Homo sapiens: one gene and its partners. The protein of the gene in region 6 purifies or fractionates together with the protein of the main gene of each other region. This does not show direct contact. Each region holds a gene or a part of one and is shown on either strand. Other genes may lie near its edges.

The links.
Region 1: the proteins of FHL5 (region 6) and ZMYM6 purify together in Homo sapiens (affinity purification with mass spectrometry; 3 studies listed by BioGRID and IntAct, with this or other methods). This does not show direct contact.
Region 2: the proteins of FHL5 (region 6) and CTU1 purify together in Homo sapiens (affinity purification with mass spectrometry; 3 studies listed by BioGRID and IntAct, with this or other methods). This does not show direct contact.
Region 3: the proteins of FHL5 (region 6) and TAX1BP1 purify together in Homo sapiens (affinity purification with mass spectrometry; 3 studies listed by BioGRID and IntAct, with this or other methods). This does not show direct contact.
Region 4: the proteins of FHL5 (region 6) and ZMYM1 purify together in Homo sapiens (affinity purification with mass spectrometry; 3 studies listed by BioGRID and IntAct, with this or other methods). This does not show direct contact.
Region 5: the proteins of FHL5 (region 6) and ZBTB33 purify together in Homo sapiens (affinity purification with mass spectrometry, with the first as the bait; one large-scale study listed by BioGRID). This does not show direct contact.

Annotation. Positions count from the first base shown.
Region 1 is NC_000001.11:35,014,946-35,018,445, forward strand, and holds part of ZMYM6 (zinc finger MYM-type protein 6), read right to left. Parts: intron 218-3,500; coding exon 43-217; intron 1-42. UniProt on the Homo sapiens protein: Plays a role in the regulation of cell morphology and cytoskeletal organization.
Region 2 is NC_000019.10:51,101,910-51,105,409, forward strand, and holds part of CTU1 (cytoplasmic tRNA 2-thiolation protein 1), read right to left. Parts: intron 2,682-3,500; 5' UTR 2,661-2,681; coding exon 2,153-2,660; intron 1-2,152.
Region 3 is NC_000007.14:27,827,162-27,830,267, reverse strand, and holds the end of TAX1BP1 (tax1-binding protein 1), read right to left. Parts: intron 2,531-3,106; coding exon 2,448-2,530; intron 1,641-2,447; coding exon 1,439-1,640; 3' UTR 501-1,438; downstream 1-500.
Region 4 is NC_000001.11:35,106,885-35,110,384, forward strand, and holds part of ZMYM1 (zinc finger MYM-type protein 1), read left to right. Parts: intron 1-3,409; coding exon 3,410-3,500.
Region 5 is NC_000023.11:120,253,812-120,256,354, reverse strand, and holds part of ZBTB33 (transcriptional regulator Kaiso), read right to left. Parts: coding exon 921-2,543; 3' UTR 1-920. UniProt on the Homo sapiens protein: Transcriptional regulator with bimodal DNA-binding specificity.
Region 6 is NC_000006.12:96,601,128-96,604,627, reverse strand, and holds part of FHL5 (four and a half LIM domains protein 5), read right to left. Parts: exon of another isoform or gene 3,476-3,500; intron 1,027-3,475; 5' UTR 1,015-1,026; coding exon 856-1,014; intron 1-855. UniProt on the Homo sapiens protein: May be involved in the regulation of spermatogenesis. Stimulates CREM transcriptional activity in a phosphorylation-independent manner.

The DNA of each region.
Region 1 (3,500 bases), on a different chromosome or scaffold from region 6:
TCTCTTTCAGCAGAATCCCAATAAAAGTAAAATGTAACTTACATCAGCATTCTTCTGACACATACTGCACTTAGTTGAAATGCTTTTGGTATATATGGTAACAACAGGTTTTTTCTTTAGCTCATAAGATGACAAGCATGATTGGCTGCAGAAATCTTTGCTAGGATAGGAATTCTCAAAGCGAGTTGTGATCACATCCTTAGGATTTAAAATGTCTCTAAAAATAAATAACAAAGGTAAAAATGAAATGTATTCTTCACAACTGTAACTTCCTCCTCTTTGTGAGGTGAAATAACACTTACTAAGGGCAGGTACTGTATGGTAGAAAAAGGATAAGGAATCTGCAAACCTGGGTTTGATGAGTTCTGCTATTTATCAGGTGAGTGACAATGAATGATGTAATTACTATCTCAATTTCTTCATGTATAAAATGGGGCTTATAATATCTAATTCATAAATTTGTCAAGAGTGAATTATATTTAAAATATAGCCAGCCAGGGCCAGGTGCGGTGGTTCATGCATGTAATCCCATCACTTTGGGAGGCCGAGGTGGGCGGATCATGAGGTCAGGAGTTCGAGACCAGCCTGGCCAACATGGTGAAACCTCGTCTCTACTAAAAATACAAAAACTAGATGGGCGTGGTGGTGGGCGCCTGTAATCCCAGCTACTCGGGAGGCTGAGGCAGGAGAATCACTTGAACCCGGGAGGTGGAGGTTGCAGTGAGCCGAGATTGTGCCACTGCACCCCAGCCTTGGCAACAGAGCTAGACTCCATCTCAAAAAAAAAAAAAAAAAAAAATATATATATATATATATGTGGCCAGCCAGATGCTGAAGACAAAAATAGGAAGGCTTCCAGCCCCAACCAAGTTTCATCTGCTATAGCCAATGGGACCAGTGTCCATCCCACAACTCCAGACCACAAGACACTGGTTCTCTCATTAGCCAGAGGCTGCCCAAAGTAGAACTGAAATGAGACAATAAATGAATTTTTTCTTTCTTTTTTTTTTTTTTTTTTGTGAGACGGAGTCTCGCTCTGCTGCCCAGGCTGGAGTGCAGTGTCACGATCTCGGCTCACTGCAATCTCCACCTCCTGGGTTCAAGCGATCCTCCTGTCTCAGCCTCCGGTTCGAGTAGCTGGGACACCAGCACGTGCCACCATGCCAGGCTAATTTTTGTATTTTTAGTACAGACGGGGTTTCGCCATATTGGCCACGCTGGTCTCAAATTCCTGACCTCGCGATCCGCCTGCGTCAGCCTCCCAAAGTGTTGGGATTACAGGCATAAGCCACCGTGTCCAGCCAAGACAATAAATGAATGTTTAAAAATTAAAAGTGCAAGATTTTGAGAAACAAATGAGCTAACAGAAGACAAAAAATAAGCATGATATATGACAAAAGGGCTGTTAAGGCTTTGTATCAGAGGACAGATGGAAACAAGAACGAGACAGGAAGAACAAAAATAATTGGGTGGTTCTGTGAGACTCCTAGAGCCAATTTGTAAGAGCTAATTATTGCAATAAGCACAAATAGCAATACCCTGGTAAAACAGAGGTTAAGTATTGCCATTCTTCTGACAAGTATAAAAACTAAAGGAAATAGTCACTAATTATAAACACTAGTGCAGGCCACAAAGTAAATAATAATGGCAATAATATATACTACAATAAGTGTGTTGAGTAATTACTATGTGCCAAGCATTATTCTCTTTACTCAAATTACCCAATTTAAATACCACAAAAATGATGGAGTGCAGTGGCTCACCCCCATAATCCTAGCACTTTGGAAGGCCAAGGCAGAAGGATTGCTTGAGCCCAGGGAGTTCAAGACTCCAGTGAGCCATGATCATGCCACTGCACTCCAGCCTGGGCAACAGAGCAAGACCCGATCTCTATAAAAAAAATTTTTTAATTAGCAGGGCATGCTGGCTCATGCCCATGGTCTCAGTTACTCAGGATGCTGAGGTGGGAGGATTGCTTGAGCCCGGGAGGTAGAGGCTGCAGTGAGCTGGGATCACGCCACTGCACTCCAGCCTGGGTGACAGAGTGAGACCGTGTCTCAAAAAAAAAAAAAAATCCCCAAACCACTATAAGGTTAAGTATTACTGTAACTGCCACTTTACAGATGAGGAAACTGAATGAGAGGTTAAATAGCTTGTCAAAGTCATATTGCTAGTAGGCAATAAAGCTGAAATACTAATCCAGGCAATCTGATTCTAGTCTATGGAATTAATTATTCCACTATCCTGCCTCCCATCCTGCACCTTTATTATACAGGTATATTCAATGGTAAACCATGAGAAAATAACAACAACAAAAATTATTTTAATTCTTTAAAACTCAACTTTAAAAATATGACAGCAAATCTTAGAAACCAAAAGAATATGCTTATACACAGATGAAGTATTAATTTTGAAAAGTGATTTTTCTACTGAAAACAGAGCAATAAAGAGTTTCACTTAATAAGGTGAATCTGCCAGTGGCATAATAAGTACAAAAATAGCAAGTAAAAATATGTAAATCAAAGAGAATGACTTTATAATGAAAATCTGTGCACATAAATTATAAGTGTACTCTGAACCTTACACATGCAAATGAGTGTTATATCGTAACATTTACCGTAGAAAAACCACACCTTCCAACAATAACATAGCTCAAAACATTTTTCTAATTTTTTTAAGATAAAACTTAAGATAAACCCTTAGACTATTTTTTAACTTTTAATTTTATAAATATCATGTTTTAACAGTATGACTTAATTTAATTAGCTAATATATTGGCCTGATTAAGGTATCAAGCAGCCTTTGAAAATTTGTAAAAATCAAATGCATGCTGAAAAGATAAGAATCTGTCTCCTAACCTTATGCTAAAAAGTCACTGACGGGGGTGACTACTTTTAAGAAAACAATAGGCATTTGGATGTATAAGTTGTGTTATGTTCTTTAAAATTATTTAATTTTATTTTGGTATTTGGTATGTTGAAACAATATCTAAAAATAGAAAACTAAGTTTACTCTTTCAGATTAGTTTCATGAGAATGACATAAAAGCATTAATTAGAATGGTATTTTGCAACAAACTAATTTAGAGTATATAAATATTTTAAAATTCCTCTCTCCTGGCCACATGTGATGGCTCACACCAATAGTCCCAGCACTTTAGGAGGCTGAGGCAGGCTAATTGCTTGAGCCCAGGAGTTTGAGACCAGCCTGGGCAACATAGCAAAACCATCTCTACAAAAAAATACAAAAATTAGTCGGGCATGGTGGTATGCGCCTGTGGTCCCAGCTATTTGAAAGGCTGAGGTGGGAGGATCATCTGAGCCCGGGGAGTTCAAGGCTGCAGTGAGCTGTGATCACTCTACCATGGGCAACAAAGAAAAAAAAAAATCCTCTCTCCTCTTTACTTGGAAATTTCCATATAGCAGGATCTACTTTTAAATAGTTTAAGTCAAGACACAAAGCAGATAAACACAGCCAAAGACAAAATAGGGGCCTACAAGT
Region 2 (3,500 bases), on a different chromosome or scaffold from region 6:
GTCAGGGATTTTTCTGGAAGGCTTCATTACTTTTGGAAGTACAATTAATAAGTGATTCTATCAAATTAACTTTAAAATCCGAGGCAGCCTCTCATTCTTTTTTTTTCTCCCCCAGCTGGAATCTTGCTCTGTCACCCAGGCTGGAGTGCAGTGGCGTGATCTCGACTCACTGCAACCTCCGCCTCCCGGGTTCAAGCAATTCTCCTGCCTCAGCCTCCCGTGTAGCTGGGATTACAGCCGCCCACCACCACACTCAGCTAATTTTTGTATTCTTAGTAGAGACGGGGTTTCACCATGTTGGCCAGGCTGGCCTCGAACGTTTGACCTTGTGATTCCGCCTGCCTCAGCCTCCCAAAGTGCTGGGATTACAGGTGTGAGCCACTGTGCCCGGCCGAAGCCTTTCATTCTTTCCATACACTGTCTGCTCTTGTATGGTAAGGATTATTCTTCCCATTTTCAATCACAGAGATCTAGGGATTTCTCCAAAGTTACTCAGTAAGGAAAGGGCCACATCAGTGAATGAAGCTCAGTAAGCCTTCCCCAGAGCCAGTGGCCCTACCTAGCATGGTGGCACATGACAGCCTCAGAACTACTTTTGCCTTCATATGCTTTCAGTGTGCTGATTCTCTCCAACCATCATCTCTCACCTCCATCACCGCAGCTGGCTTCCCACTGACTGGTCTCCTCGGCTTTGTCCCTGTCCCTCCAACCCAGGTTCCTCGCCATGGCCTGGGTGAGCTTTTCAAAGTGAAACTCTCTTCATGTCACTTTTACTGGTTCCGCCACAGCCTACAGGGTAAGGCCTGACCTCTTCCACCTCTCCAGCCTCCCCTGCCCTTGCTTTCTGGGTTCCAGCCACACTGGACTTCTTGGGGCAGCCCAAATTGGCTTTTCACAGGCCAATAACCTCTCCCTAATTCTTACCCGCTTTACCTCTTCACTGTGAGCCTTCAGATTTCAAAACCGTTCCTTGACCCCACTCCCTCCACGTCATAGGGTTCTCTGTGTGTACACATAGTCCATAACATGTCCATACATGGTCAATAACATGTATAATGTTTATAATTTTGTACCTGATAACCATGCAAAGGTAGGAACTTGTGCGTAACTGTATTCTCAGCCCTAGCCTGACAATGATGATGATAATAGCATGTATAAAATGTGTAATCTATATTATATCATACGGGTTATGTAACATAACTATAATATAGATAACGTTATACTTCTACTGACTCATCTAATTGTCATAACAAGTTTATGAGCTGGGTACCATTCATAGTCCTGTTTTAGGGATGGGGTGAAACAGAAGTACAGAGTGGTTAAGAACTTTGGTATGGCCACAGTTGGGATCCGGCATATAGCAGAAACTTAGCATCTGTTTGTTGAAGGAATGGATGAAAAAGACAGAATAAAAAAGTTATCTTCCAGCACTTTGGGAGGCCGAGGTGGGTGGATCACGAGGTCAGGAGATCGAGATCATCCTGGCTAACATGGTGAAACCCCGTCTCTACTAAAAATACAAAAAATTAGCTGGGCGTGGTGGCAGGCACCTGTAGCCCCGGCTACTCGGGAGGCTGAGCCAGGAGAATGGCGTGAATCCGGGAGGCAGAGGTTGCAGTAAGCCGAGATCGCACCACTGCACTCCAGCCTGGGAGACAGAGCGAGACTCTGTCTCAAAAAAAAAAAAAAAAAAAAAGTTATCAAAGAGGAGAGGCCAACCAAGAAAAGGAATTAAGAGATGGAGATGCTTTTTAGAGAAAGAGCTGGATTCTGAAAGGTGGACCATAAGAGATCAAGCATGTTAGAAACATTTAAAAATAAGTAAAGGACCAGAGATCTCCAGAGATTTTCACCTCCCACCCCTTTGGCAATCTGTGGAGACCAAGACGGTGGCCAAGACCCAAAAACCTTTGTGATCACTGCCTGGCCCCTCTGTCTCCCCAGCGTCTTGAACCTTTAAAGGGCCCCAGCCCCAAACTGCAGCATGCGCCCTTCCGCACCTCCGTACAGGGATCCTCCCATTAAGCCACCAGGGTCTCCTCGCCGCCTTCTGGAGCATGCGCCTGAATCCCCTTTCAGGTCCCGCCTCCTCGCCTGTGCATTCGCCCCACTGCCTCGGAGAGTGCCGCTCTGCGGCCCGTACTACGCTCACCTGTCACGATGTGCGTGGCTCCCACGCGGCGCGCCCCTTCCTCCAGCGCCCGGCGCCGCAGCACTCCACAGAAGGTGCAGCAGGAGCGGCTGCGGCCGGAGCCGGCTGTGCTGCGGGCCACGGCGTCCATCGTCCAGCCCCCAAAGAGGTCTTCGTAGGCCACGACCGTGAGCGGCAGCTCCCAGCGCGCCGCCTGGCGCCGCACGGCCGCCAACGCCGCGTCCCGGTAGCCACCGATGCCCTCATCGACGGCCACGAGCTGCAGTGAGATGCCCAGGCGCGGCGCCAGCGCGCGCAGCACGTGCGCCAGCACCGTGGAGTCCTTGCCGCCCGAGGCGCCCACGGCCACCACCGCGCCGGGCGGCAGCAGGCGGCCGGCGAGCACCGTGTGCAGCACCTCGGCCTCGAAGGCGGCGCAGAAGCAGGCACCGCACAGCGCTTGGCCCGAGAGCGGACGGCGGAGGGCGGCGCGTGCAGCATGGCAGGAGGCGCACGGCGGGGCGGGCATTGCGGGAGGGGTCGGCTTCTCCTAGACAGGGAGAGAGAGGAGGTGGGTTACATATGGATTCCGGATTGCAGGGTCCCTGCCATCGGGGAGATTGTCTGGATTGCACCTCTGCCCGGAATAGACCAGGGAGACGTGTGCGCGAGTGGAGTAGCTTCTTCTAGCGCTGGGGATAGGATGGTTATAAATAGGTCCGGTGTAAGGAAGCCACTGCCTTAGGGAAGGCTTCTTGGATTGCACCCATTATGCAAGAAGAAGAGAAGTAGCTTAAGAAGCTGGCTTCATGGGTAAAGAGAGGGAGCGACAAGCAGGTTATACCCAGGATTAGGTTGTGTCCTCTCCAGAGGGATGGGGGTGTATATTAAGGCCCATTTGTCACAACCTCCAGGGAGGCCACCCTTGTTACAGTCCTGATCAGGACAAGGTAGGTATCATTGGCCTGGGCCACCAGGGCTGTTAAAAGCCCTTGGGAGGTGAGGGGTTTTTGACTCTAAGGGCAGAGGGAGGCCAGGGGACTGAAGCTCTGTGCAGCGGGAGGTGGAAAACAGGAAAGGCCAACTGATTGCACTTTGTAGGGTGGGATACGGTCTCCAGGAATGGGTTCTGATTGCATCCTATGAAAGGCAGGGTGATCACCTTCTCCAGGGAACACAGGCAGCCTGGATCACACCTCTCAGGAGACCAGCTGGGGTTGCACACATTTTGAGGGTGAGAAAATGGGTGGGCCTCCAAGATTGAACTCAACCCTGCTCTGGTATCAGAATGCCCCACAAGCTTCTGTGCTCTCACCAAGACATGGATCGGCCCATCTTTGACCTTCATCTGTTATCTTTCCTACTTCAT
Region 3 (3,106 bases), on a different chromosome or scaffold from region 6:
CTCCAACAAAAATGCTCCCATTGTTGAACATATTTTACCTAAGTATATAACCTATCTGGAAGCTGAAAGTCTCCAAAGCTATTGCTTCCTAGGACTGCTGTGTCCTAACAGCTGGCATATGAATGCCTCATACTGGTTTGCCCTAGACTCAAAAAACTTTTTAAAGGATTCTAACAATATACAAACTCTGCTTCCACAAACAAATACAAGTGACGACATGATATGCTGCAGTTCACATATAGCAACTCAAAATGCCACCAAGTCTAAATATTAGGTTAACATCTTCAATAGCTAGTTTGCTCAGAACAAATGTAAACTATTTTGATGATAACTACAAAAGCGGCAAAATCAAAAGTTGGTGCTTTAAATTATTCACACGCACATTATAAAAGGGAAAGGGAATACAATTCAGAAGTATTTTAAAGGCCCAAACCAAAAAAAGATGTTCAAGATGCTAGATTAATGAAAAACTTTCACAAATAAATTTGACAACAATGAAATTACAGATCTTGAAAAATGTGTCCTCTTTCTTTAATGTTAGTGACAGTTCTATACAGCACAGACATAACTGAAGAAACACATTACTTTGATTTGGGTTTATGTATTGTACTTTTAATCACTTACTGAGAATATTTCAAATTTATATTCTCATCAGGAAAATGTAAAAAAGATACTGATATATATTCTATGATTTTTATGCCACAAACACCCCTGTTATGAGATCATTTAATAGGAAAACAATTATACTGACATCTCTTGTTCCATTTTCCCATTAGATATATACATACAACTTCAAGATAGTTTAAAAATAATCATTCAGGTTATTCTAAAATTTTGCCATAAAATTAGCAAAGTATGCCTTCTGTTAATTGCTAAAACCAATATTTCACATATAAAAGCATGTGATCTCATTCTACATGCAGCTCCATTTCTGAAAATTAAAAACCTATCATTTCATGGGCTAAATTATAGAACTTTCTATATTCGAAGAACTACTTCATAAGACTGTTATGACAAATGCTTTTTATTACATAATATTTAGTAGTCATGCTCAATCAACAAGGTCAACAGAAACTTGTGAATATTCTGCTAAATAATCTAGCACACTAATACATACACGTTTTTCAGTGCAGTAACATTGAAATAATCCTTGTATCCTTTATTCAGACAGTTCTGCAAACTAGGGAATAAATAAAGATACGAACACACAAGAACTTTTTTTTAAAGCAGGTAAGATTAACAGAGATTAAAATTTATTGATAAGCCAAAGACTGACCCTGATCCTAGTAACACCAAACTCAAAGTAGCTCCTGGTCAGAAAGTGCAGTAAAGGGTGCATGAAAGCATCCGCTCTATGGTCTCCTCAGTGGTCTATTTTAGGTGTGGTTTTTTTTTTTTTTTTTACTGCTAAACTATATTAACTCATAATAAAAAGTAACTAGTCAAAATTTAGAACATTCTGATCAAAATGGGTCTGCACATGCCTTTCAAACACCTGCTGGTCATAGTCAGGAGGGAACTGCTCGCTGCACATCGGGCACACCTTCCAGTGACTTTCAACATGTTCTTCAAATTTGCTCTGATCATAGTTAGGAGGAAACATTAACTCACAGAGGGGACACTTCTTGTGAACATCAAAGCTTAAAGAGAAAAATGAAAGAATTACATGTTTCTAATAAATGTAGAACAACAACTTGTCCATATATGACAAGGTTCCATTTATCTAGTTAGCTGATATTCATACTAAACAACCTACCTTAAAAGTCTTTACTCCAGAAACATTTCTCTGCTTCTAAATGCTTGCTGTAGACAATTGTGTAACCCATTTATAGAGCCTCTAAATTCAATTTTACAATTAGATTAACAAAACCGTTTTTCCCCCTTAAAACCTCCCAAATCCAATCACAATTACGTGAAATTAGTACCAAGAATTCTTCCACGTTTAACAGAAAATGCCTTTTGTAAGACTGTAAGGATAAATACAACTCATAACTTCCCACCAGTGCATTTGGTTTAATAGCAAAGTTTTTATGGCACTGGTTCTCAAATGCTTGTATGCATCAGAATCAGTCGGAGGACATGTTTTTGTTTTTGGCCAAAAATACTGTATTTTTAACCAGCAAGATCATTGGTGCATTATTATACAACATTAGGTGTTTTTTGCAAAACTAGTTCCCATCCCCAAACAACAGACAATACATGCATTTGAATGACATTTTAGGAACAGTAAATATTCTTTTAAATACTGCAAGTTAAAAATGTTTTCTGACAAAACTCCCTAAATCGGAGGACATGTTAAAACACATATTGCTGGGCCTACGCCTGGTGTTTCTGGTTCAGCTAGGCCAGGCCCTACACATGTGCATTTCTAATGAGTTCCCAAGGACCACCTTTGAGAACCACTGGCCGATATAACCCAAATTCTACAAAGTAAAGAAGAAAACTACCTGGAATCAAAGCAAAAGCCTGTCCCATGCCCACGTAAATGTTGACTTGGAGGATCAGGAGCAGTAGGCACATTCTCATCTTCCTAGGGGAAAAATAATTTTGGAACTTTTAAGAAAAGTAAAACCAAATATAAATTCCTTAATTCAATCAAGCACATACTGACAGTATAAAAGAAGATTACACTTCAGGAAATTTTCTCTCTGCTATCATTTAATTAGACTTTCAAATAAACATGTTTGAAACTTTGCAGAGTATTTCACTATAAACTAACACTGTGGTGTTCTTGAAATAAAAAGCAGTATTCAGAGGAATAGAGACATACCATTTACACATACCATTTACCATACCTGTATGTGTAAATGAAGCTGAGAACAGTAGACCTTTTCAAACCTATATACGTAGGTAACTTTTACTGACTTTATCATTCTGCAGACTGGGTGACCAGTTTTTTGCTTTTTTTTTTTTTGAGATGGAGTCATCACTCTGTCACCCAGGCTGGAGTGCAGTGGCGCGATCTCGGCTGACTGCAACCCCTGCCTCCTGGGTTCAAGCAATTCTTATGCCTCAGCCTCCTGAGTAGCTGGGATTATAGGTGTGCACCACCATGCCCAGCTAATTTTTGTATTTTTTAGTAGAGACAGGGTTTCACCATGTTAGC
Region 4 (3,500 bases), on a different chromosome or scaffold from region 6:
TCTGTCGCCCAGGCTGGAGTGCAGTGGCGCAATCTCAGCTCACTGCAAGCTCCGCCTCGCGGGTTCACGCCATTCTCGTATCTCAGCCTCGCGAGCAGCTGGGACTACAGGTGCCCACCACCACGTCTGGCTAATTTTTTGTATTTTTAGTAGAGACAGGGTTTCACCGTGTTAGCCAGGATGGTCTCAATCTCCTGACCTCGTGATCCGCCCGCCTCGGCCTCCCAAAGTGCTGGGATTACAGGTGTGAGCCACCGCGCCTGGCCGGCCTTGTTCTGTTTTTAAAAGCCTATATGCCGGGCACGGTGGGTCACGCCTGTAATCCCAGCACTTTGGGAGGCTGAGGCGGGTGGATCACGAGGTCAGGAGATCGAGACCATCCTGGCTAACATGGTGAAACCCCATCGTTACTAAAAATACAAAAAAAAAAAAAAATTAGCGGGGTGTGGTGGCGGGCGCCTGTAGTCCCAGCTACTCTGGAGGCTGAGGCAGGAGAATGGCATGAACCCGGGAGGCGGAGCTTGCAGTGAGCCGAGATCGTGCCACTGCACTCCAGCCTGGGCGACAGAGCGAGACTCTGTCTCAGAAAAAAAAAAAAAAACCTGTATTGAGTACCCAGTTGTTCAGCTTATGTGATGGGGCAAGACTGATTTGGGTAAACGAGTTAGTTAACAAGCACAGCCTAACACTTTCCCCTTGCATCTGAATGTAAGACATCATGTGACAGTGATAATGGAGTAAATCTACAATGTTAGTGAACTATAATCCAGAATTAGAAAAATGTCCAAATATGTGAATCTAAAAATGGGGTAGCTTTTTATTTTTAAAAAGTGGATTATTAGATGTAATTGTAATTATTTTGGCCATATGTTAATAGAATATATTAAGTTAGCCTTCCCTTATGAATATTAAACTAACTTAATTATAAATGATACCACTATTGGGCCAGGTGCGGTGGCTCACGCCTGTAATCCCAGCACTTTGGGAGGCCAAACGGGAGGATCACTTGAGGTCAGGAGTTCAAGACCAGCCTGGCCAACATGGTGAAACTCCATCTCTACTAAAAATACAAAAATTAGCCGGGCATAGTGGCACACACCTAATAATCCCAGCTACCCGGGAGGCTGAGGCAGGAGAATTGCTTGAACCTGGGGAAGGTAAAGGTTGTAGTGAGCCGAGATCATACCACTGCACTCCAGCCTGGACAACAGAGCAAGACTCTGTCTCAAAAATAAATAAATAAATAAAAATAAATTATGCCACTATTGTTGCTTAACGTTAAAGATTAGTGAATTGTTAAGATTTCTCAAAATATAAAAGTTGTTCATACTAATAAAGGATAAAAATAGAAATTTTCGAAATTATCCTTTTTGTTTTGTTGTGCCTTTGCCAATATCCTGTTCTCTCACAGAAAAATAAAACGTATATGTATTTTTTTGTCTTTGTACTTTGGTGGGTTTTGTTTTGTTTTGTTTTTGTTTTTTTGAGACACAGTCTTGCTCTGTTGCCCAGGCTGGCGTGCAATGGCACGATCTCAGCTCACTGCAACCTCCGCCTCCCAGGTTCAAGCAATTCTTCCATCTCAGCCTCCCAAGTAGCTGGGGTTACTTGGGCGCACACCACCACACCCAGCTAATTTTTGTATTTTTGTAGAGACGGGGTTCCACCATGTTGGCCAGGCTGGTCTTGAACTCCTGACCTCAGATGATCTGCCCGCCTCGGCCTGCCAAAGTGCTGGGATTACAGGTGTGAGTCACCGTGCCCAGCCTGTCTGTGTACTTTGCATCTCCAAAAGCAGTTTTGTTCCATCGGTGATTTTTTTTTTTTTTTTTTTTTTTTAGACTGAGTCTTGCTTTTCCACCCAGGATGGAGGCTGGAGTGCATGGTGTGAGCAAAGCTCACTGGAGGCCCAACCTCAGGTGTTCAAGCAATCCTCCTGCCTCAGCCTCCCATGTAGCTGGGACCACAGGCATGCGCCACCACACCTGGTTAATGTTTGTGTTTTTTGTAGAGATGGGTCTCACTTTGCTGCCTAGGCTGGTCTCGAACTCCTGGGCTCAAGTGATCTTCCTGCCTTAGCCTCCCAAAGTGCTGGGATTACGGGCAAGAGCCACCACACTGAGCCTGATGTATTATTTTTTCTTTCTTTTTTTGAGACAGAGTCTTACTCTGTCACCCAGGCTGGAGTGCAATGGCATGATCTCGGCTCACTGCAACCTCTGTCTTCCTGGGCTCAAGTGATCCTTCCCACCTCAGCCTCACAAGTAAATGGGACTACAGGCGCACGCCACCACACTAGGCTAATTTTTTATTTTTATTTATTTATTTATTAGAGATGAGGTATCACTATTTTACCAGTCTGGTCTCAAACTCCTGGGTTCAAGTGATCCCCCCGCCTCAACCTCTGAAAGTTGAGATTACAGGCGTGAGCCACTGTGCCTAGGCTCTGACATATTCTGAAATCCAGGAATATTGGTTCCTGTTTGACTAGAAAGAATAGGTGGTGAGCATAATCTTTACAGTAATGCCTGCCTTTCAAAGTTTATATCCTTTCTTTTGCATGGTTACTACTTACTGAACTCACAGTACTCTATACTTTCTATTGCTTGTATGCTGCTTTCTTACAATATGCTTGTAATTTTTACCATGAAGTTAGCCTAGAAAAACAGTGATTCCCACAGTATCTTGTAAGGTATTTAAGTTAAGCACTCCTTCCTGGCTCCTCCTCAGCATCGGTAGACATCTTCCCAAGTTAATTCCCAAGCTACCATTGAGGACAGATCTATAACTATATAAGGCCTTTGTTTATCCAGTAGGCTTTGACTGCCTGAAATGAACTTCTGTGACCACTTTCTTCATTGCTTTTTTTTTTTTCCCTTGAAAAGGAGTTTCACTCTTGTTGCCCAGGCTGGAGTGCAGTGTCACAATCTCAGCTCACTGCAACCTCTGCCACCCAGGTTCAAGTGATTCTCCTGCCTCAGCCTCCTGAGTAACTGTGATTACAGGCGCTCGCCACTACACCTAGCTAATTTTTTGTATTTTTAGTAGAGACGGGATTTCACTATGTTGGCCAGGCTGGTCTCGAACTCCTGACCTCAGGTGATCTGCCTGCTTTGGCCTCCCAAAGTGCTGGGATTACATGCATGAGCCACTGCACCTGGCCTTACTGCTTTCATAGGTATTATTATTATTGCTGTTAAATATATCTGATAAATAATAAAAATCATTTTCAGATTTGCCAATATTCTTTTAGTTATTGCAATCTGTAGTGTCTTTTTAAGAAAATGTAAAAACTGTCTTAATTGTTATTCTTTTTAATATTCCAACTAAAAGCAGTGGTAATAGGTTCTTCTTCATTAACAACATATCATATACCAGGAATATGAATATTATTTTAATCTCTAAACAGAAACCTGCCAAACCACTTATATCTGTTCCTTGCAAACCATTGAAGCCCTCAGATGAAATGATTGAGACTACGAGTGATTTGGGGAAGACAG
Region 5 (2,543 bases), on a different chromosome or scaffold from region 6:
CTATCATTTACAAGGATTTATACATAAAGATACATTTGGTGGCTTTCAGATTCAAAATTTGAAAATTTTCATGTTCATGGGAATATTTTTAACCTTAAGAAGCCAAAAGGAAATCTTCATTCCATTCTCTACTATGTGGTAGCCAGAGAATTAAAAATCCATGCAACAGAACTTTTCATCTCCTCCTATCTGCCATTACAGAGATTGTTTTCATTAGTTTTTTGCCCCCAGAGACCACACTGCGAAGGTATAAAGTGGTCTAGCCACCAAAGTCTTTTACAGACTATGGCAATGAAAGCCAGGATTAATTCTAATTAGCTAAATCTAATTTGTTCTTCAGATGAGAGACTTGTCTGCATGGCTATTTTCATAGAGGGAGGGTAGCAGGAGGTTGCTGTTCGCTTGGACTAGCAGATTACACAACCCAAGTACTGACTTATTCTGACATTTTCCAGAACAACTCTAAAACTTATTTACTCTTTATGCCATATACAAGACAAAACACACATTTATTGTCTCAATGTTAAGAAAATTGAGAATTCAGCAGTAAAGTGCTAACATGGAAGGGGAAAGCTGTAAGATGTACTAGGGTATGCTAATAACTCCAGTTATTTTCAAAGAACATTCAGACTGCTTCAAATTCTATTCAGGAAACTATCTCTCCAAGCTTTTAATTTTTGCCTCTTTTAAATGAGCTGAAAACTAACTATATAAACAGATACTTGGGGAGGGGGTCTCACCTCTACTCAAAACTTTCAGGAAAATTTGCTTCTAAAAATTATCAACAAAAATCCCACTACACTTCCTTCAGATAATGTGGCAGATCAAATTAACTTGTTCGCACCTTAATTTGTTTTACAGATCTTCTGAAACCCCTGCCCCATCATCCAAAACAAAACTTTCTAGTATTTCAAAGGAGTTTAGTAAGACTCTGGTATTATAAATTCAAACTCAGTACTGCCATCTGTTACATTTTGTTTAAAAATTGAATCATTTTCCTGCTGAATAAAAATATCTTCCCAGGTCATTGGCTTGTTCTGAGTAGATGTAGTGGTCCCTACTGGAGGTTCTTTTCCAGTGTCAACCTTATACCCAATACCATCATCCTTCATTGCAGGAATAGTGCTTGATCTATCGGAAAGATATGCATATTGTCTGATTTGTAAAGACCTGCATGGATGTAAACGATAAAGCTTTGAGTCCCCAGAAGGATCTTGACTATGAACTGACTTTATATGTGAAGACATAAACTGATAGTTGATGAAAGATTTGCCACAGGCCAAACACTGATACCTTCGCTCCCCTGTGTGATGAATTTCATGCTTTGTGCGATATTCTGCAAGAGGAAATACCTTCTCACAGTAACGGCACGGATACTTCTTCTCCCAAGAATGAATGTTAAAATGTCTCCGCAAGCTTGTCAGACAGACATATGACCTTTTGCATACAATACAGATATAATAGACCCTTCCATCTACTATTAACTCATAGTGATCATCATGTTTTACTTTCATACGTTTGTTTGCCATCTCGCTGCCAGACGTTTTTGGTATTTCATTCTCAAGTCTGGCCTCCCCTTCATCAGGGTCATCTTTGACAGGGATCACTATATCATAAGTATCTTCACCGATATTTGCATAAACCTTGCAACCAGTCGATAAGCCTTCAATTTCAGTAGCTGTATCTAAAGTAATGATCTTCTGACCCTCCATTAGATGTTTTGATCCTACGCCTGGATCATTAGTATTTCTAGTAATTATATCTGAAATTTTTAAGGAATTGGAAAGTGGTTCTTGAAGAAGTGTAGGAATCTGCATCTTCTGTATTAATGATCCATCAAAACTGGTATTTTGGGAGGTATCAGCCTGTGGGACCAAAGATGTATTACTGACGGCCGAGTCAGGACTGGAGCTAATAGTGTCATCATCATCATCTATTATTTCCTCCTCCTCCTCTTCATTGGCCTTGTTTCCTGTTAAAATAGCACTGTTTGGTGTCTGCTGATTCTGCACAAGTAAATTGATTGAAGAGGGCATATGATTTGGAAGTGAAGAACTGACATTTGGTGGTGTAGAAAGTGGTGTCTGATTTAACAAAATAATATTGGGAGTCAGATGTGTTGGAGCTGAAGATACCAACAATTTTTCACTTCCTTGTGTTTGGCTCAAAGTTGCCTGATTCACAGGAGTAGGAAGTTTCTGAGTAGGTGTGATATTTGTTAAAGGGGGCGAGTTATTGCTAGCACTAGGTGCAACATCTGAAATAGCAACAGGGCCTGGGTTAGATTGGACCTGTGCCACTGTGTTATTACTCGGCAAAGTCTCCTTTGTGGGCAGAATCTCGGAGCAAAAAATGACATCATCATCATCATCATCAGAATCGGTAACAATGATCTTTTTCATTTCATAATCTTCGGCAGATAATGAAAAAGACTCTGTTATAATAGGCATTATAGTAGCCCCATTATCTTGGGCTTCATCTTTTGATTTCTGTATTACAAGGTTCTTGTCACCAGAATCAGGAGGTAAAGGCTCAGTATTACC
Region 6 (3,500 bases):
AGTTGTTACTGAAACTGTTACCCATAGAGAGGAGACTCTCTGGGGTAATTAAGAGCTAGAGCCCAGGGCTTTCTTGGTGGGTCACTTAAGGCAGCTGGGAAAAAACAAATACATTCTCTGCTGTGTCTTCAAAATTTGCCTATATTCTTTTTATAAACTATAATAGAGGTTTTTCATGGAATGATTTTTAAAAATTTTAGGGTGCAATGTTCTATTACTCTTTGAGATGTAACTAAACAGACAAAAAATAACATCACCTAAGTAAAACAAAGGCAGAAAGAGGGAAGAAAGAGACAGAGAGAGAGAGAGAGAGAGAGAGAAAGAGAGAGGAAAATAATCGGAGGATGGAAGGAAGAAAAGAAGAAAGAAAGAAAGAAAGAAAGAATAAGCATGTCGGAGGAAGGGGTGGTAGGTGTGAGAGGTATCAATAGGGTTTAGTAAGAAATGAAGCTGATTTTACATCAGAAAACAGATTTTGAATCCTTTCAACTTCAATTCTTTATGCATTTATTTATACCCTTGTCATTCCAGAAATAACAAACACACCCAGAAGGTTACTGAGAGCTTGGAAACAGCAGGAAAATTCTAGCTGTGTAACTTTGGACAAATAGCTTAACCCCTTTAATCTTTAGCATTCTCAGCTACCTTAGAAGATCATGTGAGGATTAAGCATATGTTGTATTTCATAGTGCTAAGTGTAGTGGCTGGAGCTTGACTGCTGGTAACTTTTAAGATCCTTATATATCCAGTAGCAGAGAAATAGTGTTGAAAGTCAACACTAAATGAAAAGAGGCACTCCAACCCACTTGTTTGCTGTTCATAGGCAGTAATTCTGTAAATTGAGGTGAGACTTACCTTAGAATCAGATTCAATTGGTTTTTTGCATTCCTCGCAATAGTTAGAAAATACACGATCATAACATGTAACACAGTATGGACTGTCATCCTTTAGTACATATTTCTTCCCAAGAAGTGATGCTGTGCAGTATTGACAGTAAAAGTGAGCAGTTGTCATTTTGGTTTGATCCTATGAATGACAAAGTGATTAATGTATATAAAAGCAGAATTTTGTTTATAGGATAAATGATGAAACCTTAATATAATGTGAGTGAAGCATTTGAATGAACTTATATTTTCTTAAGCAAAAATCCCCCAATTTAGGAAAGTATGCTTATAGTCATGGTGACATTTGGAGTGATTTAGGAAAGATTACTCTCCCATCTTGGCAGTTCCCTGTATGTTTTGCTAAAAAAAAATGCATAAAACCTGCATCTAGATTATGAAAAACATCTTGTGTTTATCATAAGCTAATGTGGAATTCAATGAGAATATGGTATCTGTTGAAACAGGATGGTTTTACCTCAAGGATATAAACTGTTGCTAGGGCTTTTAATAACTATCATCACTTACTTTCTTGCTGGAAAATTCTAGAGGCAGATTTTGATGGAAATAACAGTCTTTTTTACTCAAATATAAATTAATAATCAGTACATTGTCATTTTCTAGTTCATTCTTTTACTCCTCAAGTCTTTACTGAATACCTAATAAGGGCTCTGCACATTTACCCTGAGGTCTTCGTGTACTACATCCCCTCCTTGGCTGTGGCTTCCACCATCCCAAATGTGCTGATGACTCCAAAATCTCTGTTTTCTGCTAGCTTTAGATATCTTCATTTAAATGTCCTTTACCAAACTGGCCAAATAAAACTCCTCAGCAGGTAGGATTCTCAGACCAAGTGCTAGGTCTTTGTGACTATTGTGAACAATTGCCCAGATGCAGAAGTGCAGATAAAATCATCAGTGGTAGAAAACAACAATGGGTTCCTTCAGGCTTTAGGGCCAAAGTAACATGTATAGAGCATAAATAATAGCAGCAGCTATTCCATTATAGCTATGGATAAAATAGCTAGAATTCATCTGCAAGGCAAAATGCATTCTGTAAGATGAATAAAAAAGCTGATATGAAACATAAAGCCAGTGATAGATAAGGACTCTGATTGTTTTGTAAATTTGGAAAGCCATTAAGAAACAATGCACAGCCTGTAGTCCCAGCTACTCGGGAGGCTGAGGCAGAAGAATGGCGTGAACCCGGGAGGCGGAGCTTGCAGTGAGCCGAGATTGTGCCACTGCACTCCAGCCTGGGCGACAGAGCCAGACTCCGTCTCAAAAAAAAAAAAAAAAAAAAAAAAAAAAAAAAAAAAAAGAAACAACGCATATAGATTTCCAGGTTTTAATTAGGCATTGAACATGAATTCTTTGTTGTTACAAAAAAAAATTAGCACTGCTTTTCCTTGGAAAATGAGATTTGTCATCTCAGGGTTTACTGGAATATATTAGGAGCTTTGAATATTTTCTAATTCTCCCCCCACATAATTTTTCTTTTAATTTTAGCAAAATCAGAGGAGCAATTAACGATAATACAACAGAGTTTTTGATACTAGTTTGTACTGACTACATTTGAACTCTTATTCTCATGCGTTTTGCCTTATTCTAGTGATGAAATTCCCAGCAGAGAGCCTTGCTGAATGCACATGATTATTAATTCTGTACATAGCAGTTTTGCTATATTGTTCTTCACTAACAAGTAGAGAAAAGGCAGAGGATTTGGAATATGTGGGTCTTTTCCCAGGAAAGAGATGAAATGCAGACTAGAAAGTTCGCAATGGAACATGGCCAAAATTATCTAAAAGGAACATTGAATTCTCCATTTGATTAATTCCACAGAAATGTTCCTTCCTAGTGAATACAAACACACTCAGAGGGTTACCGAAGGCTTGGAAACAGCAGGAAAATAGATCTAATTCCCTTGAAAGGTTTAAAAATAAAAGTTGTATTCACATTTACAGCGATCAAGTGTTTGTCACTTTATAGAAATAAAATATGTACCTTTAACTCTCTTCACTTAATATGGAAAACGTCGTTTTCATTAATATTTATTTTAGTTTTAGATGTGTATAATAGCATCATGAAACACGGCCCCTCAGGGGTTAGGAACTGCAGTCTACTGCCATTTTGTGAGGCTTTTAGTGTATTATAAAATGAATATATAAAACATATAAAACCACAAAAGGGATTACCAAATTGATAATATTTCAATTGTTTATTTTAAATGACACTTTAAACATGACAACATCAAAATACCTGTAACTTATTTAGTGATCAGATCAGAAGTCTAAATATAAGACAAGACGGTCCTTCTCCCACCCCAGTCCTAATTACATAACAGGCCTGGATCCACAGAAAATGCCTTACAATATAGACCATATTTCTTAATTTTTTGTTTTGTTTTGTTTTTTGAGACAGAGTCCTGCTCTATTGCCCAGGCTGGAGTGCTGTGGTGTGATCTCGGCTCACTGCAACCTCTACTTCCCGGGTTCAAGCCATTCTCCTGCCTCAGCCTCCTGAGTAGCTGGGACTACAGGCTCATGCCACCGTGCCTGGCTAATTTTTGTATTTTTAGTAGATATGGGATTTTACCGTGTTGGCCAGGATGGTCTCAATC